Homo sapiens: one gene and its partners. The protein of the gene in region 1 interacts with the protein of each later gene in a pairwise test. Each region holds a gene or a part of one and is shown on either strand. Other genes may lie near its edges.

Region 1 (7,038 bases):
TTTTAGTTCAGTCCCTTCTCCAGACCCAGAGCCTTTGGTAGGGGGCACTTCATAGATTGATTCATTTATTTTCTTCCTCTCTGTGACCTAAAATTCTCTAAACCTTGGTAAGCATACTATGTTACTTCTAAGAGATGGCATATTTGTAGTGTTATTTTGTGGGTAGAGAAAGGAAAATGAAAATTGCAATGGGCAAGATTCCCACAATGAACATTCCCTGGAGTTAGTTATGATTTTGGGATACAGGATTGTTTCATGCTGAAACATGCTGCCTGGTATGTTGCTGCTCACGAGTCTCCAGGCCCTCTTAGGATGTCTGTTAAATTCTGTGCTAGCAGGGGGCCAAAACAGGCAACTTCATCTGAACTGGAAAGGTCTTGTTGCCATATGGAGGACTGCATTTCCGTGTATTTTTACAGGGGTGGGGGAATAAAGCACCAGAGGTTAAGACAGTAAGGGGCAGAGGTACATCTCTTGCCTGATAACATCTGCAAAACATTGAGCTCGTCAAACATATCTGGTGATTCCAGTTCTCCCTACAGGGATTCAGAGAACTGTGAGCCACATTGCCTGCCCTCAGGCTGGCACAGGGACATAAACATTATAGAACTAAGAACAATAAAAATTTGAACAATTTAAAGTAATTATATTATAGACGGTACATTTATTAAACCTGAAGTACACAACATAGATGTTATTTGCTATAGGGTTCGGGAGCTGGACATAATCCCTTTTAGGCTAAAGTGGACAGGGAAGGCATCATAGAGAATGTGGAACTTTAACTGAGGATTCAGAGTTAAAGAGAACAGAGTAGATGGTGATAGGAGCCTGTCCGATTAGGACAGCAGCATGAAAAAAGTTGAGAAAAGTGAAAAGATGGTTGAAACCTGAGTCTAGCAGTCTAGTTTCTCCATTCACTGATTCCGTAATATCTCTTTAGCCCAAGGATCAGCAGACTTTCTCTTGAAGGACCAGAGAATAAGTATTTTAGGCTTTGTGGTTATATGGTCTCTGTCACAGCTTCTTATCTACTGCTATAGTGCAAAACCAGCCATATGTAAATGAATGAGTGTGGCAGTGTTCCAATAAAACTATATTTATGGATGGTGAAATTTGAATTTCATATAGCTTTTTACATGTCATGAAATATTATTCCTCTTTTGGTTGTTTTTCAGCCATTTAAAAATATAAAAACCATGCTTAGCTTATGGGTTCTACAGAAATAGTTCGCTGGACCAAATTTAGCCTGTAGCTGTAAATTTGCCGACCCCTGATTTAGCCCACTAACATGATAAACTAGGAATACGTTATGCAAATAAATTATAAGCGTATGGAGTTTCATTCTAAGAATATCCACTAGAAGATCCAAAATTGAAAGCTATGGGAGGTGAGTACAGGTTCAAGTAGTTGGAAAATAATGGCTCATTATTTAAGCTTGTAAATTGATATTTAAAAAAACCAAGAGTCAACATGGTACTTTAGCCCATGCCATTGCATTTTTTAATAACCTTAGAAAGAAGGCCAGGTGCAGTGGCTCACGCTTGTAATCCCAGCAGTTTGGGAGGCCAAGGCGGGCAGATCACGAGGTCAGGAGATCAAGACCACAGTGAAACCCCATCTCTACTAAAAATACAAAAAATTAGTTGGGTGTGGTGGCGGGCGCCTGTAGTCCCAGCTACTCAGGAGGCTGAGGCAGGAGAATGGTGTGAACACGGGAGGCTGAGCTTGCAGTGAGCTGAGATGGCGCCACTGCACTCCAGCCTGGGCGACAGAGTGAGACTCCGTCTCAAAATAAAGAAAGGAAGAAATAATAATAATAATAACCTTAGAAAGAAAGACAATTTAGTGATTGGATGTTCTTGCAAATGAATAGCATTTTCAAGGATTTATTTAATCAGGCTCCTCCTAAGAGTAGCATGTTCTGACAACAGCTATAGATTTATCAGAAAGCAATCTTTGGATATTGGTGGTAGTTGAGTTGCATGTTGATCATTAAATGCTGTACTCCTTTTGCAGGCATGGTCTACATGGCTGGACTTGTTTTTGCTGTTGGTGGCTTTAATGGCTCATTAAGAGTTCGCACTGTAGATTCCTACGACCCTGTGAAGGACCAGTGGACCAGCGTTGCTAACATGAGAGACCGGAGAAGCACTTTGGGAGCTGCTGTGTTAAATGGATTATTATACGCTGTGGGAGGCTTTGATGGGAGTACAGGTAATTTCCTTTTCATTTATTCTACATTGCTGCTAAAATTAACGTAGTAGTCATGTTTATGGAATAAATTGTGGCAACATTAGGGCACATGTGAGGTTTTTTGTGTTTTTTTTTTTTTTTTTGAGATGGAGTCTTGCTCCGTCGCCCAGGCTGGAGTACAGTGGCGCAATCTCGGCTCACTGCAAGCTCCGCCTGCCGGGTTCATGCCATTCTCCTGCCTCAGCCTCCCGAGCAGCTGGGACTATAGGTGCCCGCCACCACGCCCGGCTAATTTTTTTTGTATTTTTTAGTAGAGACGGGGTTTCACCATGTTAGCCAGGATGGTCTCAATCTCCTGACTTTGTGATCCGCCCACCTCGGCCTCCCAAAGTGCTGGGATTACAACATGTGAGGTTTTAACTGGTATTTAAAGATAAGTTTAAAATTTTATCAAGAATTTCCTTAAATGATATGAGTGGTGAGTATATAAATTTTCTTTCTTATGCATCAGTATCAGTCATCAAATTTTAAAAGCTTATAAATATCAGTAGCTTAGGTAGGAGCCTTCTGGAAAACAAGCTGTACCTGTTTTTCATGTAATTGCTGTGTTTATGTTCCACCATTTTCTTCTCTTAATTTTAGCCCAGTATAACATACCTGAAGTATTTTTCCATATATATGAACTATTGACATTTTTTAGAGAAGGAAATGAAGACTATTGTGCTTTATTATAGGTTTGTCATCTGTGGAAGCATACAACATAAAGTCTAATGAGTGGTTTCATGTAGCTCCCATGAATACAAGGAGGAGCAGTGTTGGTGTGGGTGTTGTTGGAGGTAGGTGTTGACAGTTCTTTCAGGTACATGTGGCATTTTGATCCTTGAGAGTGGTTCTTCCAGTAATCTCAACTTTAGTTTTCTGAATGGGCAAGCTAATTATCATTTTAAAAAGAAAAGTCGTAATTACTGTAAAATTTCAGTTATCCTCTTTTTAAAATTAGCTTCTCTATATAAATCAACCTATATAAAGCCTTTTCTCTCCCTCTCTATCCCCCTCCCTTTATCCCTCCTCCTTTCTCTCTGTGTGTGTGTGTGTGTGTGTGTGTGTGTGTGTGTGTTTGACTTATATAACTGTGTGTGTTTGACTTATATAACACGTGTGTGTTTGACTTATATAACAGCAGTCCCCAACCTTTTTGGCACTAGGGACTGGTTTTGTGGAAGACAATTTTTCCATGGACAGGGGTGGGTTGGGGGGATGGTTTTGGGATGAAACTGTTCCCACCTCAGATCATCAGGCATTAGAGTGTCATAAGGAGTGCACAACCTAGGTCCCTCAAATGTGCATTTCAAGATAGGGTTCACACTTCTGTGAGAATCTAATGCCGCTGCTGATCTGACAGGAAGTAGAGCTCAGCTGTAATACTTGCTCACCTGCCGCTCACCTCCTGTTGTGCAGCCCGGTTCCTAACAGGTTCCAGACAGGTACCGGTCCATGGCCTGCGGTTTGGGGACTGCTGCTGTATAAGACTGTCAACTGATTTTAACAGTTGCTTGGGGGAACAATTCAGGTGACATAAATGTGTAATTTTATATCTGGAGAAGGGCTGTTAAGGGATGGATTGCCACAGTTATTTATTTATATCCTACTTTGTCTCCCAACAGAAGTTAAGGAAGGCTCTAAGTATTATTATTATTATTTTTTTTTAATTGACTTGGGCAAATTTGCAGGTTTCCACCCCCTCCTCATCGTAGGTGTAATCTGTGCACTTAGAAAAAAACAGCTTTATTGTGATATAATCCACATCATACAATTCACCCATTTCATGTATACAGTTCATTGTGCATCCATCACTGCAATTCATTTTAAAACATTTTTATTATCCTCTAAAAGCAATCCTGCTTCCCTTGGCTCTTACTCGTATCTTACCCAACCTTCAGCAACTGCTAGTCTACTTTCTATCACTTAGAGATTTGCCTCTTCTGAATATTTTAGTCATACAGTATGTGATCTTTGGTGACTCACTTCTTTGGCTTAGGGTGATGTTTTCAAGATTTGTTTATTTATACTGAGGCATTTATTAGTACTTCATGCCTTTTTAATGCCAAGTAATATTGCATTGCATTCTGTTATTAATTTTTGATTTAACCTTTTTTCCGATTTCCTAAGATAACTTTGGTATTTAATTCTGTCTTACAGGATGTTGTTCACTTATCAAATAGTGTTACCTAAAGATATAATGAGTGTGCTATTTTATCAGATTATTGATGAAAGTATAAAATTAACATCATCAGCTATACCCTGCAGATCTTCATAACATGATTTGATTACCCCATCTGTCACCATTAGGCAAGACCCTAATATATTTCATAAAAATCAGCAGCACTTTAAGGGGAAACTCTGCTGCCATGAAGGAAAATATATTAATATTTTCTGGCTTGAAAAATTAGTGTTTTTTGTTTGTTTGTTTTTTAATAAATTTGGCTTTCTATGTGATTTTATGTGTAGGTTTGCTCTATGCTGTAGGAGGTTATGATGGAGCATCACGTCAGTGTCTTAGCACAGTAGAATGCTATAATGCTACAACAAATGAGTGGACCTATATAGCAGAAATGAGCACCAGGCGGAGTGGAGCAGGTACATGTGAACCTGTTTTAGCAACTGAAGCACAAAAATGATGGAAAATAGTTAAAGTAAAATGATTCAGTGGCATCACTTTACATTATCTGAAAATATATGATATGCTGATTTTAGTGGCACTGCTAAATGTCTTTTGAATTGTGCAGGTAATGGGAGTAATTACAAAGTAATTTTACTTTAAAATTTAATGTCTAAGTGCCATAGACATTTCTGTTTCATTTATATATTCAAGTTGTTAGCACTCCTTTTAGTTTTTTGTTTTTAGTGCTTATTGGGGAACTTGCTTAATAATCAAGTCTTTTCATGTATATTTCTTAAAATTTTGTGCTTTAATATGCGGTTATTTTACTATGGATATTGTTTTCAAAAGGATTACATTAAAGGACTTTTTCCCTCCCTGTGTTTCACCTACATGTTATTAATATTTTTATTCTGTTTGACATGCCTCTTTTTTCAGAATAATAGTTTGTTGAGATGCTTATTTAATCATCAATTGTATTGATTTCCATTTCTTAAATTGTAGGCTATAGTATCAGCTTGCTTTTATTATGAATTATAACTTCGAAAGTTTTAGTTACAAGTCATTTAAATAAACCTAATATGATATAAATCTCTTGTTCTTTTTGCCCCTCTATTTGGCTGGTTGTGTTTTATAGGTGTTGGTGTGTTAAACAATTTATTGTATGCTGTAGGAGGTCATGATGGCCCTTTAGTACGAAAAAGTGTTGAAGTATATGATCCCACCACTAACGCATGGAGACAGGTTGCAGATATGAACATGTGCAGAAGAAATGCAGGTATCTGTCAGTTTAAGGTTATAAAACTTATGTTGAATTTTATTTTAAGTTTCACTGGTATCACTCTATCAATGAATATCAATGGTATTTCCATTGTTCTTTTACTGATCTGGGTTCCCTGATAGACTCTGAACTCTTTAAAGCCAGAAACTTATGTAATAATCCTATAAAGTGAATGCCTGCCATAGTCTCTGGAACATAACAGGTTGTTGTGACACTTCAGTAAACTCATCATTTCTACTAGCTGCTACTTTTTGGTGATAAATGTGGAGACTAATTAAATTAGGTGTAGACCCTTTAAATGATACTGAATTCATTCATTCTTACAACAGATATAATTTAGTGCCTACTATGTATCTATCATACACTGGAGATCCTAGTTCTCAGGAAATTTAGTCTAGTTGAGTAGATATTTATACTAGGTTAAAAAGCTAGTTGATTATCTAAATCTAGAGGGGAAGTCTGCAAAGGTAACCCTAGCTTAATACAGTTCAGGATTTCCAGAAAAATGGAAAAACTAAAGCAACAACAATAACAACAAATAATTTTAAGAAAGTAGAGAACTTCAAGATTAGGGAACTAACCACTTAAAAAGAAGAATCAAGAAAGGGAAATACAAATGGAAAATAGACTCAAGATAGCTACATAGCCTTTCAGGAAATGCTAGGATTCTTCAAAATGCCATTATCTTCATGTCATTTCTCATAGTGTAAAATAAGTTCCTGGTGAGTCTCAAACTTACTGTACACCATTGGACACCCCCCTCCATCAGCGCTCATCTTAGTTTCTCTTTAAAGAAGGGTGATTACTAAGAGAGACTAAGTATGTGGAACTGCAGATACTGTTGGCAGCAGACCAGAATTTATAGTTAATTCTGTTTGGCCTTGCACGTCATCTAGTCAGTTGTATATGGTAATCAGTTCGTTAGATGGTAAGACCCTCAAATATGGGTCCTTAGTAGAATAAGTGACTCCAGTATACATTAAGTTAGAAAAGCCATGGTGATTTGTGCATGTGTCTTCCTGGATTAGGAAATTTAGTTGCAATTTGAGCTTTTTATGAATATTTTCTTAAAGGTTAGACTAATTTATTTTTTCTCTATATGTGTTTATTGTTTTCATATCAAAATTCACTCATTTAGGTAGAAGAATAAAGAGATAATTTGTATATATAGAGCTACCATTATCCTGTTCTTCAAAAAATTGTGTGGGAAAGGGTAGGATTTAGGAAAAAGACGTAAGTCTCTGTTGAAAAGTTGTTTCATATTTTGATTTAGACAACATTACTTGAGTTTATTTGATAATCAGGAAGAGAGAGAAATCTGAAAGCTTACTTTTCAGTTTGTTTTTCCTTCTCAATCAATGATGTTTATTTTCTATGCAAATAACAAAATTTGAATTATTTACTT
Region 2 (2,875 bases), on another chromosome or scaffold:
TCTGTTTAAGCATTAGTTTGAGAGTATACTTAACTGTGACATACATAGCAGAGTCCCAGAAGAAAGAACTGACTACTAACAAATTGAAACAAGTACCCTTCAGGGGACCGTGGATATAACCTGACTCCTTCAGTGACAAAAATCAAGGTGAGAACAACCCAAAATCCCAAAATAAGGATTACTAAATTAAAATAGGCTCTATCATACCCTATCGCTACCACCACATAAAGGACTAAGACTGTAATAGTAAGGACCTCTAAGCCAATTTCCTGATGTTCCAAAAAACATGCTAATCTTTCTGATCTAATTCCTACTTCACAAAAAGGAAAATTGAGAAAGAGGATTTATGGATTCCAGGAAGAGCTTCCACTAGTGGAATATAAGTTATAGGGCTAATCAAAACAAAGCATAAAATAAAAATCAACACATTCCTAAGTAACTACTCACACATATTTCATTTCCATGGGTACGTAGAAGCAATCAAAATAAGTCAGAAGACAGCAATTTAAATAAGATTTATTTTTTTAAAGGTGGTTATTTTTATTTTTTGCAATGCCACAGTTATAGGAGTGTATGAAGAGGTAACATGTCTCCTTTTCCTTAACCATGTTTTTTTTTTTTTAACCTTCTGCACAAAGGTAAAAGTTTTTGTTAATCTCATAGTTAATGGTATAAAACAGAGATTGGCAAACCTTTCCTCCAACAGGCCAGGTAGTAAATATTTTAGATTTCACAGACCACATATTTTTTTCTTTTATAACTCTTTAAAAATGTAAAAATCATTTTTAGTTTGCACCATACAAAAACAGACTGGGCCAAATTCGGCCCGTGGGCAGTAGTTTGCCAACCCCTGGTATAAAATATCTACTTTGTCTTGTCAGAGAAATTGCTGTCCTTAGGCTTCTAGACAATCTGCTGCCTGAAGTCAAGTGGAGAAGGGCCTTATTTACAATTTAATGTGGTTTGTGACAGAAGTAGAAATGGAGAGCTTCTGCTCACTTTTGACTCTCCCAGTTTTTCCATTCACTCATTCATTCAATAAATTTGTTGAGCACCTACTATGTACACTCTTAAATATCTTGGTGTTAGCAGAAATTTCCAGTGTTTCTTCCTTAAAAGGGTGATTTCTCCAGTTTCTCCAAACCAGGAATTATTTCTTAATACTCATGTTTTATGGAAAAATCAGGATTAAAATCTCTACCAGCACACAAGAGGATACATGATTATACAAAATGAATCTAGCCAACAATGATATCCTTGCACCCAATAGTGACACAGCCTAGATGAGGAAAATATGTAACTATCTCTATTTTAAAAGATACCTCTTTTCCTCCCACAGGCTGAAACTTTCAAAAAAAAAAAAAAAATCAGATCTAGAACACCCCGCAAGTAATTTCTTCCCATTTTCCTAGTTTTGCTGCCATGTTAACATAAAATCTGGATCCAGGTAGGCCTCTTCATTAGCTTTCTATTTCAGCCATAAAACAATACTACACTTACAGCTGAATACTGACTCCAAAGCAATGTGCATGCCCACATTTTATCTCAGGGAGGGATTGATTATGTTTCTGCTCCTTCAGAATGAAAACTGTTAGCTTTCTGAATCCTATTTATCCAAGGTGAGGGAAGACTTTTTAAAGTGGCCAAAAGGAGCACAGGACTTGAGTATTAAAATATAAAGGTGGCCCCCATTCCAGATCTTTGGTACAGTCATCAACTATAATAATCTGATTGCCCACCCCACCAAAACAGCACATTTTGTAATTAGAAGTGATTTTGATTTTCCTTTTGACCATGTAAACAATAGGGGAAATGCCTTGGGAAACTACTTTGCAATGCACTCTCATTTCTCTTAAATACACAACCAGTTCTCCCTTTGATAAGTTCATGGGGGGAAAGAATAGAGTAGGCCAAGGTTATCGCTTTCGCTCCCCTCTCTGTGTCCTTTTTTTTTCCTTTTCCTTGCGCTCCTGCTTGGCTAGTTTGTCTCTCTCCCTCTGCAGCTTGTCCTGTTCCTTCTTCCTTTGGGATTCATCCCGAAGTGAGTCTCGCTCCAGTTTTCGGGCATTAAGGACATCTTCCACATTGGTGTTTCGGAACAGAACTACAGGTGAGTTAAGGGATTAGGGTACAGGTCACACAGATCACACCTACTGCTGCCTTTCCTCATTCTACTTATCCTCTCTCCACCTGCTGAGTCCTGAATCGTCTTTATCTATTCCTGGTTTTTTAAAAAAAACCCTTATGTTTATCCTTGGTCTAACAGAGAAATCCTAAAGCTATATTACAAAAGTTTTAAAATGTCCTTTGGAATAAAACTCTTATTCAGATTTACCTAAATCTGAATTTTAAAATATTTTACCAAAGAAACAAAAAAATAAGAAAACAAAATATTTCATCAAAATGAAATTTCATTCTAGAATAAGTACTTATATCATTCAATGGCAGAATATTAGAGAATCTAGGCTAGTTTTGGTGAACAGAGTAGTAATGTAACTGACTAAATGTTTATGTACTTGGCTCTGTTAAAATGCCTTAAAAGAGTTAAATAAGATGTTTAACCTTATTAAACTTTATCAATTTGCTTTTGTTCCTAGACTACTAAAGCTGAAGTGAAAACCACATTCTAATAACCATACACACTGAATCTATAAGAGATAGAAAATGAGTTTAGGCTGGGCGCAGTGGCTCATGCCTGTAATCCCAGCACTTGGGAGACTGAGGCAGGTAGATCATGAGGTCAGGAGATCGAGACCATCCTGGCTAACAGGTGAAACCCCGTCTCTACTAAAAATACAAAAAATTAGCCGGGCATGGTGGCACACACACCTGTAGTCCCAGCTACTCGGGAGGCTAAGGCAGGAGAATCACTTTA
Region 3 (7,038 bases), on another chromosome or scaffold:
TCTTTAGTAGAGATGGGCTTTCGTCATGTTGGCCAGGCTGGCCTCGAACTTTTGGCCTCAGGTGATCTGCCCGCCTCAGCCTCCCAAAGTGCTGGGGTTACAGGTGTGAGCCACCATGCCCAGCCCACTCCCACAGCCTTTAGATCAGAAGTGCAATGGCACCAGCCACACCACCTCTGCTTGTCCACCTGTGTGTTTCCTTAATGTAACCAGGAGACCCACAAAGTCCCAGTCCCTAGATACTTAATCCAACATGCCCTGAATAAATCCAGGCACTAGCATTGTTAACACCCGTTTTCCCCCCACTTGGGGCCACCTATGTACTAAGTGAGTCCCCCTTCAAATACATCCAAACAGCCTCCAGGCCATCCCAGAACATCTGGTCTACTTGTGTTGTAGTACCACTAGAGCAGCCCAGAAATAAGACGTTCTAATATGGCAATTCCAACAGCTTCTGTGCTTCCCTGGCATCCTTTACGCCAAGCGTGACAGAATGGCTATGTAGAAAGGACCCCTGGAAAAAGGAAGACCCCAGTTCTGTTCTGTGGAAAGGGAGTTCCCTTACCATTAGACAGGAGCTGATCTGCTCTAAGCTCATCAAACAGAAGAGCGTCGCCATAGCCTTCCTTCTGTTTCTCTCGGAACAGTTTATAGCAGGCACTGGGGCTGGCCAGGAGCAGCAGGAAGCCCTGGGAAACAGAACTTGGGTCAGAAGCCAGCTTTCTCAGCTGGACATGGTGGCTCATATCTGTAATCCCAGCACTTTGGAGGCCGAGGCAGGCAGATCCTCTGAGGTCAGAAGTTCGAGACCAGCCTGGCCAACATGGTGAAATTCCATCTCTACTAAAAATACAAAAATGAGCCAGGTGTGGTGGCATGTTTCTGTAATTCCAGCTACTCAGGAGGCTGAGGCAGGAGAATTGCTTGAGTCCGGGAGGCAGTGGTTGCAGTGAGCGGAGATCACGCCACTGCACTCCAGCCTGGGTGACAGAGCAAGACTCTCAAAAAACAAACAAAAAAAAAAAAAAACAAGAAAAAGCCAGTTTTCTCTCCAGAATCTTCCAAGATTCCCCAACAGAAGGCAAGGGTCAGATGTCCCTTCTCCAGACCCCAAAGCAGACCTTTTTGCCCTCATTCTTGTCATCTGTGGGGATGAAGCACATGAACTCATCCACGTGGCCAGTCATTAGCCAATCTGAGTAGAGCTCCACCGGCGCTTGGACCTGCTGGGCATAGAGGAAGTCTCGGAGGGTCTTACTCATGGCCCGGCCCTCTGCGCTAGAAGGAAGATGGAAAGAACAGCTCTTGAGCCAGTGTGGCCCAGGGCTGGTCACCCGCCACTTGGTGTCATGCTGCCTCCAGGGAGCTGGCCTCTGACCGTTGTGTGAAAGAGGCCGGTCCATAGCGGATGTGTTGGTTACGAATCCCTTACTCTGACCCCACTCAGAACAGAGCCTAGTGTTTCTAGACAGACAAGCCCGGGCACAAGTATCATTTTGGATTTATGGCCACCAAGAAATCCAACCACATATCTCTTGGAAATGACATCCTGGTGGACCAAATTTCACTTGTTTCAGTTTAAACCCTGGAATCAAAGAATAAATGGTTTATTCTCATCTTTAGTCTCCCACGTGAATCAAAAGCTCAAATGTCTTCAGTTTAAGAAATGGTCCAGTGTGTGTGACCTGCTGAGGTGCTATGGGAAGCAGGCGGGGCCAGGGGAACGACCATGGTCCCTTCCTTTCATTTGGAGGCGTCTGGCTTTGTGGCTCACCTGGGGTAAAAGCTGCTGCCAATGAGGACTCTGCCCAGCGGGTACTCTTTCCCTTGGACCTTGACAGGTGGGGACACCATCAGGTTCCCAATGGAATCCATGCTGGCCACTTTATGGTCCTCAGTGTCCTGGATCATGTAGCCAATACCAGGGCTCTGGGGGAGAGACCGAGCCAGGGAAGGGGTGTTAGTAGGGGATGGCTTTAGGCCCCAGTCTTATCCCTAAATCCAGGCTCTCAGGTAGACTTCCACGTCCCCTCCCCCCTCAGAGGCCACCTGGGCCCTCTCCCCACTTGGTGCCCCATTATTTCTAGGCAGGCCCCAGGCCTGAGAGATTGGACTGAGCTCAGATTAGCCAAACCAAGTTCCACACCAGTGAGTACTTCATGGGGAACTCATCGAGATCGGCGGCCTGAGGTGTGTCGAGGATCAAGGACGTTGTCTTGTGGGGAGCCTGGGTGTAGCAGAAGGCCATCTCATCCTGGAATGGAGAGGAAGACAGATTGTTTGCCAGTCACACATCTCCCCGGACCCCATTTACGGAAAAGGTACGGTAAGAACCCCCTTCCTTCCTGCCAACTCCTGCTCAACCCTCAACACCCAGCTCAGATATCACCCCTTCTTGAAGGCTCTCCGATCCCTCTCTCCCCTACTCTTCAGGTTTAAGACTTGAGCATCCATGGCCAGGTGTGGTGGCTCACGCCTGCAATCCCAGCACTTTGGGTGGCCAAGGTGGGTGGATCACTTGAGCCTAGGAATTCAAGACCAGCCTGGGAAACATGGTGAGACAGTCTACTTAAAACAAAACCAAAAAGTTAGCCAGGCATGGTGGCTCATGCCTGTAATCCCAGCTACTCAGGAGGAGGCAGAGGCTGCAGTGGAGCTGAGATCGCGCCACTGCACTCCAGTCTGGGCGAAAAAGACTTGAGCATCCAGATTCTTCCTTTCTTCTTTCGTAAAGAATCCATTAACAAGCCTTACTGGCTTACATTCTGAGTCAGCTCTGCGCTGGTGCCACTCAGGAAGCCACCGTGTCTCCACCCTATGCCACTGTGATGCCTTCCAGTTTCGCTTCTATTCTTGCCTACTCTTAAGATCTGTTCCCTACATCTTAGCCAGAGGGGTCTTTTGAAAACCTGAACTATAACCTTTCATTCCCGATTCATGCTTTGAGTGTCTCTTGTTTGTCCTTAGCTTAAAAGGTACCTTAACCAGGAGGTAGCCCTGCCTTTCACCTTTGTTCACTGTGATCTGTCTGCATCAGCCTTCTTCAAGACCTCCAAGCACAACCCCAGATTTTTTTTTTTCTTTTGAGACAGTCTCGCTCTGTCATCCAGGCTGGAGTGTAGTGGCGTGATCTAGGTGCACTGCAACCTCCGCCTCCTGGGTTCAAGCGATTCTTCTGCCTCAGTGACCAGAGTAGGTGGGACTACAGGCGCGCGCCACCATGCCCGGCTGATTTTTGTATTTTTTTAGTAGAGACAGTATTTTGCCATGTTTTCCAGGCTGTTTTAAAACTCCTGACCTCAAGTGATCAGCCTCCCAATGTGTTGGGATTACAGGCTTGAGCCACTGCACCCGGCCAGGAACTCCTTTTAATCCTGGCCACCCCTGCCCCAAATCTCTGCATGGCCAGCTCCTTGTTTCCTTAAGTTTCATTTGCAGATTTTCCCAACTATTCTTAAACTGCCTCATTTGGTCTAATGAATCACTGTATCATCTCATTGTCTAAATTTCATAGCACTTAAAAGTTCTATCCTTGCTAACATGGGACAGCATATGTTCCAGTTTATCTCTGGTGCTCAGGATGGCGTGCCTAGCATGTGATGATCACTCATCTGCAGAGGACAGAGCTCTAGAACCGAAGGCTGACCGGGGCTCTAGACTTGGTGCTGTGCCAGAGTCAGGCGGGACCCCAGGGCAGTGGCCCAGCTCTCACAGCCTTAGCCAAAGGTATCAGAGCCTTCCGGGGCCTGGGGGTTAGGGTTCTGTGGTCTTGAACACGTGTCCATTCTGGAATGGGAAGGAGGCTGGACTCTAACTATTCCTTAGTGGCCATGACTCAGGCAAATCCTCATCTGAGCCTCCACTGAAGTCCTAAGAACAGGGCCGCCCCTATCAAGGCTTCGGTCTTTAAGGTTAACCAGAAGCCTGTGAAGTTCCTCTTAGGTGGCACATGCTGAGTCTCCCCACCCCTCCCCGACAGGTGGGTTCCCAGGTGGGGTGTTACCTGGAGCCACCTGCCCAGGCGGTTGGGGTCCTCATAGACAGATGCCACCTGGCTGTTGCTCTTCTCACTCAGCTTCGTCACTGTGTCCACAAAACCCTGCAGCTGCAGCTCCCTGCCATGGGAGAGAAGCCAGTTCTGGGAAGGCTTTCGAAGGTCCCTTACTGGTTATGACCTCCTTGTGCCAAGAGAGGAAGAACACATCCTTCTCACCAGGAGAGGTTACATCCCTGCCCGTGAGGTCGACAGAGCAACCATCCCTGACCTCGGCACAAGCCAGAAGCTCAGAGCCCATCTTGTCTGACACTACTCAGCTTTGCCCATGGCAGAGCCAGGTTGGGAAGTGCCAGTGGCGGCCCCTTCCCTGGTAGCCAAGGCCTGCTCTGTTTATACCCTTCGGTCACATTCTGCAAGTACCCTTCCTTTCGTTCTGTCACCCAGGCTGGAGTGCAGTGGCATGATCTGACTCACCGCAACCTCCACCTCCTGGGTTCAAGTGAGTCTCCTGCCTCGGCCCCCCACAGTAGCTGGGACTATACGCCTGCCACCATGCATGGTTGTCATTTTTATATGTGTGGCGTTGGGTGGGTCTTGAGCCCTGGGGTCTTCAAGCCGTTGTGCACAGCATCAGGCTCACAGATCTACAGTGGCCATCCCTTCCTTGAAGGGAAACAGCAGTGTGTGAGGCTGATGTTAAGACCACTCATCTGGCCGGACGCAGTGGCGCACGCCTGTAATCCCAGCACTTTGGGAGGCTGAGGCGGGCGGATCACCTAAGACTGGGAGTTTGAGACCATCCTGGCCAACATGGTGAAACCCCATCTCTACTAGAAATACAGAAATTAGCTGGGCGTGGCAGTACATGCCTGTAATCCCAGCTTCTCGGGAGGCTGAGGCAGGAGAATTGCTGGAACCCTGGAGGTGGAGGCTGCAGTGAGCCAAGATCACACCACTACACTCCAGTCTGGGCAACGGAGCGAGACTCCATCTCAAAAAGAAAAAATAATAAATTATCTTAAACAAACGGAACAAACAGGTCCTCAAAAGTTGGAGGTCAGCAAGGCCCTAATATTGGGAGATATTGAAATTGGGACTGTAGTCCGGCTTCAGGTCCAAAGCTCATGTTGCTACTAATAGAATACAGCAATGTAACTACTGGCATAGCACATTCATAGTATCTATGCTACTGCTCCAAAGAACCTATTTCTTGGGTCTATGCAAAGCCACAGGGAGCTACCAGCCTGACAAGGTCTAGAACAGTCTGACGCTTACTGGGGGAAGGGTGTGTCGGCTCAGTCTTGCAGGTCATATGCAGCTATATGGGGTCAAACCATGCCTGAATATCACACTGTATGGAAGACTTGGGTTTCTTTGAAGAACAAGTAGATGCCTCCTGTGAGTGAGAAACCCGTCTTCAAATACTCGAGATACCACATCTCTCTGCTTTATGTCTTTTGTATCTGCCATCAGCAGAATCCCATCAGACTTTCTGAGATTTTACCTTCTCATCCTGAAGCCTGCTATTCCTCTGAGGACCACACTCCCCAGGAGCCCTGCCCTGGAAAAGCTGTCTGGCTTCTACACCCACGGAGCCTGGAAGAGGGGTAGAAGTCTTTTTTTTTTTTTGAGATGGAATCTTATCTGTCACCCAGGCTGGAGTACAGTGGTGCAATCTTGGCTCACTGCAACCTCCGCCTTCTGGGTTCAAGAGATTCTCCTGCCTCAGCCTCCCGAGTAGCTGGGATTACTGGGGTGCACCACCATGCCTGGCTAATTGTTTTTTGTATTTTTAGTAGAGACGGGGTTTTACCATGTTGGCCAGGCTGGTCTTGAACTCCTGACCTCAGGTGATCCGCCCGCCTCAGCCTCCCAAAGTGCTGGGATTACAGGCATGAGCCACCACACCCAGCAATTTTATTTTTTGTTTTTGAGACAGTTTCGCTCTTGTTTCCCAGGCTGCAGTGCAGTGGGGCTATTTCAGCTCACTGCAACCTCTGTCTCCTGGGTTCAAGTGATTCTCCTGCCTCAGCTTCACTGAGTAGCTGGGACTACAGGCATGCACTACCACATCTGGCTAATTTTTGTATTTTTAGTGGAGACGGGGTTTTACCATGTTGGCCAGGCTGGTCTCGAACTTCCGACCCTCAGGTGATCCTCCTGCCTCGGCCTCCCAAAGTGCTGGGATTATAGGTGTGAGCCACCACACTGGCCACCTTTTCCTATTAGTGTTTCCCATCCCTGCTAGAGCATTCCATCAGCATTATCCTTTGCCTCCTACCTTAAAAAAACAAAAAAGCCTTCACCTAAGGAATTTGCAATAAAGGGCAACGTGGTGGTAGTAATCTGGAGGCGGCCGGTGTGGAGCGAGTGGGGCGGGGGTGTCCTACCTGCGGACCAATCCCAACTAAAGGCTGCTCCTGCCACCCTGGCTTGAGCCATGCTGTGTCTAGACTGGTCTTCCACCTTTTATCTGTACCTGACTTTCCATGTGGCCAGAGTGATCATGCAGACAGAACCCTTGGCTTCCCACTGGTTCTGCCTTCAGGATCCTATCTCCTTTTCTCCCTAGGCATGTGGCTACATAGCTAGAGACTGCTCCTGGATTCCCTGAAGCCGGACGTGGCCCCGTGCGTGTTCAGGATTTTGGCATGTGAGAAGTGGTTCAGGAGACTTCCAGACCACTAGCAGCAACCATAGGTTGCAGTGTCCAAATCTTGGCTCTTTCTCCCTCCTGGGGCCCGGGCCTGGACCTAGGATGTGTGCACTCAGCCTCCAGAGAGGAGGCAGCCACCCCAGGGGAAAGCATAACAAGACTGAAAGGAACCAGGGCCCCTAAGTGGCAGTGGGCGAGCAGTACCATCTTCCTGCAGGCATCCAGGTGACAGAAAGCTTTCACCACTGTATTTAGAGTAGGTATGGCCCCAGCTACCTCACCGTAACACCCAGGGCCCACAGGGCTCTGCTCTTTTCACCCATCCCCACACCGCCCCTTCCTGGGCTCACACCTGTTCTCTGGCTCCGTAGGAGCTTCATCGTCC
Region 4 (7,051 bases), on another chromosome or scaffold:
ACCTCAGCCTCCTGAGTAGCTGGGACTACGAGCACAAACCACCACCACCCCCGGTTAATATGTATTTTTTGTAGATACAGGGTTTTGCCATGTTGCCCAGGCTGGTCCCAAATTCCTGGGCTCAAGCGATCCACCTGCCTCAGCCTCCCAAAGTGCTGGGATTGTAGGTATGAGCCACCACAGCTGGCTTTGAATGTTCAATATCAATAGGCCCTTTGCAGAAGTTCTTATCGAAACTTTCCCCGCACAACCGTCTCTCATTGTACAATCAAAAAATGCATTCACACTGCCACCCAATACAAAAAATTTCAATAGTTCCATTTTCCAGATCTGAGACTGGAATCAGGGAAGAACCATTCCCCTCCAAATATGTCATTCTCCCCATATTCCACAAGCTGTGAGCTAGTTGTAAAGTTAATCGTCACACACTGTGTGAAAAATAATGGGAAAAAAGGTCAAGAAAAGATAAGTCAGCCAGGCACTGTGGCTTCCGCCTGTAATCCCAACATTTTGGGAGGCTGAGGCTGGTGGATCACCTGAGGTTAGGGGTTCGAAACCAGCCTGGCCAACATGGTGAAACCCTGTCTCTACTAAAAACACAAAATTAGCCGGGCATGGTGGCGCATGCCTGTAATCCCAGCTACTTGGGAGGCTGAGGCAGGAGAATTGCTTGAACCTGGGAGGCGGAGGTTGCAGTGAGCCAAGATCACGCCATTGCATTCCAGCCTGGGCAACAAGAGTGAAACTCTGTCTCAAAAACAATGAAAAGGTAAGTCTGGCCAACCGTGGTGGCCCACACCTATAATCCCAGCACTTTGGGAGGCTGAGGTAGGAGGATCGCTTGAGCCCAGAGTTTCAGAAAAGATAAGCCTTGTTAGTTAAAATATGTGAGGATATACACCTGCGGCCGCATGGATGGAATTAGAACTTTTTTTTTTTTTTTTTTTTTTTTTGATACTGAGTCTCGCTCTGTCACCCAGGCTGGGGTGCAATGGCATGATCTCAGCTCACTGCAACCTCCACCTCCTAGGTTCAAGCAATTCTCCTGCCTCAGCCTCCCGAGTAGCTGGGATTACAGGCACCTGCCACAACCCCTGGCTAATTTTTTTATTTTAAGTAGAGAGGGGGTTTCACCATTTTGGCCAGGCTGGTCTCAAACTCCTGACCTCGGGTGATCCACCCACCTCGGCCTCCCAAAGTGCTGGGATTGCAGGCATGGGCCACCATGACTGGCCATTTTTATATTTTTTTGTAGAGACGGGGTTTCGCTATGTTGCCCAGGCTGGTCTCAAACTCCCGGGCTCAAGCAGTCCTCCCGCCTCAGGCTCCTAAATTGCTGGGATTACAGACGTGAGTCCCTGCGGCTGACCTGGACCTCAGCTTTTACCCTAAGTGAGACAGAAGTCATGGGAGGACCCTGGGGCAGAAGAGTGACATGAGTTGATTCACATGTAAAAGGAATCCTTCAGGCTGTTTTGTGAGAATAAATTACAGGGGACAAAGGCAGATGATGTTACAAGACTAGTTTCTGCAAGTCTGCAAGGGTCCACGGCTGCTGTTTTGGTGTTTCTGACTTTTCTCCTTCATACACATGCCATAGAGTTCTCCTCCCTCACCCAGAACCTCAGATGGCTAGGTTCTTCTTTTTTTTTTTTTTTTTTTTGAGACAGAATTTCACTCTTGTTGCCCAGGCAACATCGTGCAGTGGCACGATCTCAGCTCAGTGCAACCTCCACCTCCCAGATTCAAGCGATTCTCCTGCCTTAGCCTCCTGAGTAGCTGAGATTACAGGCATGTGCCACCACGCCCAGCTAATTTTGTATTTTTAGTAGAGATGCGGTTTCACCATGTTGGTCAGGCTGGTCTCGAACTCCTGACCTCAGGTGATCCACCCACCTCGGCCTCCTAAAGTGCTGGGATTACAGGCATGAGCCACAGCGCCCAGCCTCAGCTGGCTGGGTTCTTGAGGGAGGTGGAAGTGGGCGATGGCTGCTGAGAGGGCATGTACCAGGGTCCAGCCCAAACAGAAGGTGCACAGGCTGGGGACAGAAGAGCTAGGGTATGGGTGTCGGTGCTCACAGTGTGTGAGCTTGACAGCACCTGGGACTGTCTTGGAGTGCCGCCGCATTCCCCATGAGTGAGTTTGTATTGTATATCCTGGGATGCTCCAGTCTGGATGGAATCTGCACGTGAGTTTGTGTGCCTTGCAAACAAACCTTCCCTGAGCACCTGCACTGTGTCTGGTCTTGTGCTGGGCGGGGTGCCCAGGGGAGGAGCCCTTAGCTCACCACAGTGATCAAGACATCCCTGGCCCTGCCCTCACAGGCTCACAGTCCACTGAGGGAGACAGACCTATCCCCAGCCAGGGACCCCCAGAGTGTGCCGGGCTCAGGTGGGGGAGCCCAGAGGGGGAACCTGACCCAGCCAGGGAAGGCAGAGGGGACTTCCTGGAGGAGGGGATGGTACAGTTAATCCTAAAAGGTCTTTCCCAATGTAACAGTTGCTCTGTAGGATGGATGCAGTGGCTCATGCCTGTAATCCCAGCACTTTGGAAGGCAGGAGGATCACTTGAGCCCAAGAGTTGGAGACCAGCCTGGGCAACATAGTAATACCCTGTTTCTATTACCAAAAAAATACAAAAATTAGCTGGACATGGTAACACAAGCCTATAGTCCCAGCTACTTGGGAGGCTGAAGTGGAAGGATTGCTTGAGCCCAGGCGGTTGAGGTTTGAATGAGCTATGATTGCGCCCACTGCATTCCCGGCTGGGCAACAGAGCGAGACCCTGTCAAAAACAAAACAAACAAACAAAAAAAACGTTGGTCTCCTGTATGACCAATGGATAAAGTAACCTTGACCAGTCTAATAACTCCCAGGCTGACCTGTAATCCAAGCCTTCTCTGTATGTCTGAGCAGGCAAAGCCCAGCTCCAGGGCTACCTCAACCCCCAGGCTGATCAGAAGCTTGGGTAACCTCTCCCAGTGTGGCCAGCGACCCCCCACCCTCCCACGTTCTGACCACTGTCCTGGGCAACTAGTGACATCTAGTGGGGGATTTTGTCCCAGTCTGACCTGGCCTGTAGGGGCCTTGGGCAGTCGGACCTGTGACCCACGCTTCCTAGCAGTGGCTGGACTCCTCCCCCTTCCCGCAGGTGCCCTGGCCTCTTCCCCTGCCCTCCTCACCTGCTCTGGCCAGTCTGACTCCTCCCTTCCCCACAAGGTTGGGAGGGAATGAAGGAGAGAGCGGGAAGGAGGAAGGGAGGGTGGCATTCCTGGGATTCCCTGGATAGGGGGAAGAGTGGGAGGGCCTTCCATGGGTGAGCAAGCAGAGAGGGCACCCCGTACCCCACCCCCAGCCCCATCATCGAAGCGGCCTAGGAGGACCTGGATTTGAAGACCATTGAAAATAAGAGATTAAACCGGTTGATTCCAGGCTACTGGTCAGACGAGGAAAGCAGCCCAGAGCACTGACCACAGGGGAAAACATCTCCGGGCATACTGGGAGCAGCTGCTGGGGGCCACTGGTCAGGCTGCGGGGGTCACTGGTTGGACTGGGAGAGGCCAGTGCAGGCCACTCGGACGGCACGCTTGGGGCCATTAGTTACACTGGGAGAGGCCATCGCAGGCCACAGGTTGCAGTGGGGTCCTCTGGTTAAAATCGACGATGCCAGCCCAGGCTGCTGGTCACAGTGGGGACGAGTCCCCAAGGCCCCTGGTCAGAATAACGAGGAGAAGGTCCGCGATTGCCTGGTGAGATCCCAGCTCGGGTCACTGGCTACGCTGGTCGATCAGGCCCCCCGCTGCAGGCGCTGGTCAGTAAGCCCGGACAGCTCTAGGCTTGGGGGCGGACGAGCCCCGAGCCTGGCCCCGTGCACTGGGAGGTCCGCTCCGGGCAGTGGGAGGTCCTGGCCCCGCGCCCGGGCATCGGGGGACGAGGGGGGCCTGGAGGGCGGGGCGGGGCGGGGCTGCCGGGGGCGGGGCCTCTGGCTCCCAGCCCCGCAGCGGCCGAGCTGCAGCCCGGGCTCAGTCTCCGCCGCCGCCGTGAACATGGAGCCCCCGGACGCACCGGCCCAGGCGCGCGGGGCCCCGCGGCTGCTGTTGCTCGCAGTCCTGCTGGCGGCGCACCCAGGTATGGCTCGGGCTGAGGGCAAGGTGGGACTGGGGAGAGGCCCCTGGGGACCCCGGGAAAGCGAGGAGAAAGGGCTTTACCCTGACCCCAGGAAGCAAAATGTGGGGACCCCAAGGAGGAGGGATATGGGAGTGTTGGAAGGTACGCCTTCCAGTGAGAGAGATCTGGGGACAGCCAGGCAGGAGAGCTGGGGATACCCAGGCGGTGGATCAGAGACAACCAGAGAAGTCAGCCCCCTTCCCACTCAGCACCCTGGAATCTGGGTCCCACCTGCCTCCTCCCTCAGACCCTGGAATCTGGGCCCCCAGCCCCTCTTTCCTCAGACCCAGGAGTCCAGGCCTCCAGTGGCTAGAATAGCTTCCCCCAGGGCACAGAGGATCAAAACCCCAGGGCTCTCTCCCTCAAAGGTCCTCAAGTTTTGAGAGGTCCAGGGACCCCTTAGAGAAGCGAGGACCATGTGTCCCCACACCAGCGATCCACATGTATTTAGGAGTTTCCAGAGTCCAGTATAAAGAACCCGCCTCCCTCAGGAAAGGGCTGGAGCACCAGCCCCGGGCAGTGACAGTGGAACAAAGTGTTTCCAAGTGACAGGCCCCCTTCCTGGGGCCTCAGCTACATTTACACACCTGCATGAGGATAGAAGGAGAGGAGGCCGGGGGCTGGGGGGTGGGGGTGGGGGTGCTGGGGACAGAGGGACAGAGAGATGAGAGAGATTGGGGAAGAGAGAGGAACTCTCTGCCTCCACTTGTCTGCAGATCAGACCCAGCCTTAGGCACCAGCCTGGACCCCGTCACCCCTCCCTGGGGACAGGCTGGGGCCAGAGGTGAGCGCTTGGGAATCCAGGCCCCTGGCACACTCATGGTCAACAGTGGGTCCCCAGGGGTAGGGCTGGGCCAGATTGAGCAGAGAAGGGAAGGGAGTTTCTAAGAAGCACTGAGAGCTGATGCCAGGATGCCAGCCCAGAGGGTGAGGGAGGGTGGTGGTTTTTCTACAATAACTACTCCACCAGGCCCCAGCCTCCTCTTCCCTCTGATCCCAGGAGTCCAGGTGCCCAGCTTCCCAAGATCCTGGGCCTCAACCTTATCCTTTTGCAAGATGACTCGACTTATCCCGTTTGCTGTTGTATCAAACTGAGGGGGGCCAAGAGGCGGCTGGGGGCTCTGGCTCCAGGCCGGGCAGGTCTCAGCCAGCCTGTCCCTCCCACATTCCTGAAACCTGCCCAGCCCTGTCCCCCCTCACCGCCCCCACACATCCATCCCGCCTAAGCTCCGGGCCCAGCCGCAGCCCACACCCCAGCCCCTCACTCATGGGAGAGCGGAAGAGACCCAGGGACTGAGTGGTGCAGGTGCAGAGAGAGGCAGAGACAGGGACAGAGATGGAGACCCAAGAGGAGAGACACACGCAAAGGTGGAGACCAGGATGGAGAGAAACATTTATCCATCATCACAGAGGTGGCCCTGCCCAGGGTGCTGGAGGCAAATGGCTGAGCCAGGCCTGGCCCTGCCCTGGGGGGTGGCGTGTGCTCTGTTGGGATAAGCAAAGGCTGGTGCAGTATTACCCCAGGAGTGTTCAGCGGAGGCCACAGGGCCCTGTGCAGCCCAGAGGAGGAGCCCTGAGCTCTGCAAGTGCAGGGAGAGATGGATTTGAGACCCAGAGATGCAGGGAGAAGGGATGGAGGGCGAAAGGATCTCAGGGAGGAGGGGCTGGGGCCTAGACTCCTGGGTCTGAGGGAGGAGGGGCTGGGGCCTGGACTCCTGGGTCTGAGGGAGGAGGGGCTGGGGCCTAGACTCCTGGGTCTGAGGGAGGAGGGGCTGGGGCCTAGACTCCTGAGTCTGAGGGAGGAGGGGACAGGGGCCCAGATTCCTGGGTCTGAGGGAGGAGGGGCTGGCACCTGGACTCCTGGGTCTGAGGGAGGAGGGGCTGGGACCTGGACGCTTGTGTCCTGGGGGAGAGGGGACCCTGTCTGGAGGGCTCTTCCTGTTGGTGTGGTGGATGATAGCTCAGTTGCTCTCTTGCAGATGCCCAGGCGGAGGTGCGCTTGTCTGTACCCCCGCTGGTGGAGGTGATGCGAGGAAAGTCTGTCATTCTGGACTGCACCCCTACGGGAACCCACGACCATTATATGCTGGAATGGTTCCTTGTGAGTGCTTGGGGCTGGGGGGCCTGGAGTCAGGGCACAGCAGGGCAGCAAAGGTTCATTCTCTCATCAGTGCCTAAGGCCTGTAGAGATCCACCAAGCCACACTCCTTGTTACAGATGGGGTCACTGAGTCCCACTGAGGGGAAGGGATCTGCAAGGTGCCCCGTGTCTAGGCACAGCCAAGTCTAGAATGACATTGACCTGCTCTGGACTGCGGGCTCTTGAGAGAGAGAACAGAGACAGACATCAAGAAAGCAGAAGCCAGGCACGGTGGCTCACGCCTGTAATCCCAGCACTTTGGGAGGCCGAGGCGGGTGGATCACGAGGTCAAGAGATCAAGACTGTCCTGACCAACATGGTGAAACCCCGTCTCTACTAAAAATACAAAAATTAGCTGGGCGTGATGGCATGTGCCTGTAATCCCAGCTACTCAGGAGGCTGAGGCAGGAGAATCGCTTGAACCTGGGAGGTAGAGGTTGCAGTGAGCCGAGATCGAGCCAATGCTCTCCAGCCAGGCGACAGAGCAAGACTCTATCTCAAAAAAAAAGAGGAAAGAAAATGAGAGACAATCGGGAGAGGGAGAGACCAAGAGGAGAAGGGATGGGACCGGAATGAGATGGAGAAAAGGAGACAGGAAAAATCAAGAACTGATAGGGAATGGGGGCAGGAGAAGGTGGGGAGGGACAGAGGGACCAGGGAGACCCATAACAAGAGGAAAAGAGGCAGAGCCAGGAGCTGCAGAGAGAAAGGACCCAGAGAGAGAGAGACTGAGGAGCGCTGGGAC

What was found.
Region 2: the proteins of KLHL2 (region 1) and CCDC43 interact in binary tests that used the Homo sapiens proteins (3 or more experiments, as listed by UniProt).
Region 3: the proteins of KLHL2 (region 1) and PADI6 interact in binary tests that used the Homo sapiens proteins (3 or more experiments, as listed by UniProt).
Region 4: the proteins of KLHL2 (region 1) and BCAM interact in binary tests that used the Homo sapiens proteins (3 or more experiments, as listed by UniProt).

What each region holds. Positions count from the first base shown.
Region 1 is NC_000004.12:165,308,537-165,315,574, forward strand, and holds part of KLHL2 (kelch-like protein 2), read left to right. Parts: intron 1-2,016; coding exon 2,017-2,214; intron 2,215-2,927; coding exon 2,928-3,029; intron 3,030-4,392; coding exon of another isoform or gene 4,393-4,415; exon of another isoform or gene 4,416-4,540; intron 4,541-4,701; coding exon 4,702-4,830; intron 4,831-5,489; coding exon 5,490-5,630; intron 5,631-7,038. UniProt on the Homo sapiens protein: Substrate-specific adapter of a BCR (BTB-CUL3-RBX1) E3 ubiquitin ligase complex that mediates the ubiquitination of target proteins, such as NPTXR, WNK1, WNK3 and WNK4, leading most often to their proteasomal degradation.
Region 2 is NC_000017.11:44,676,940-44,679,814, forward strand, and holds the end of CCDC43 (coiled-coil domain-containing protein 43), read right to left. Parts: intron 2,111-2,875; exon of another isoform or gene 2,105-2,110; coding exon 1,917-2,104; 3' UTR 501-1,916; downstream 1-500.
Region 3 is NC_000001.11:17,389,191-17,396,228, reverse strand, and holds part of PADI6 (inactive protein-arginine deiminase type-6), read right to left. Parts: intron 4,116-7,038; coding exon 4,004-4,115; intron 2,255-4,003; coding exon 2,147-2,254; intron 1,930-2,146; coding exon 1,775-1,929; intron 1,279-1,774; coding exon 1,122-1,278; intron 690-1,121; coding exon 566-689; intron 1-565. UniProt on the Homo sapiens protein: Structural constituent of cytoplasmic lattices, which plays a key role in early embryonic development. Cytoplasmic lattices consist in fibrous structures found in the cytoplasm of oocytes and preimplantation embryos.
Region 4 is NC_000019.10:44,805,079-44,812,129, forward strand, and holds the start of BCAM (basal cell adhesion molecule isoform 1 precursor), read left to right. Parts: upstream 1-4,024; 5' UTR 4,025-4,046; coding exon 4,047-4,128; intron 4,129-6,146; coding exon 6,147-6,268; intron 6,269-7,051. UniProt on the Homo sapiens protein: Transmembrane glycoprotein that functions as both a receptor and an adhesion molecule playing a crucial role in cell adhesion, motility, migration and invasion.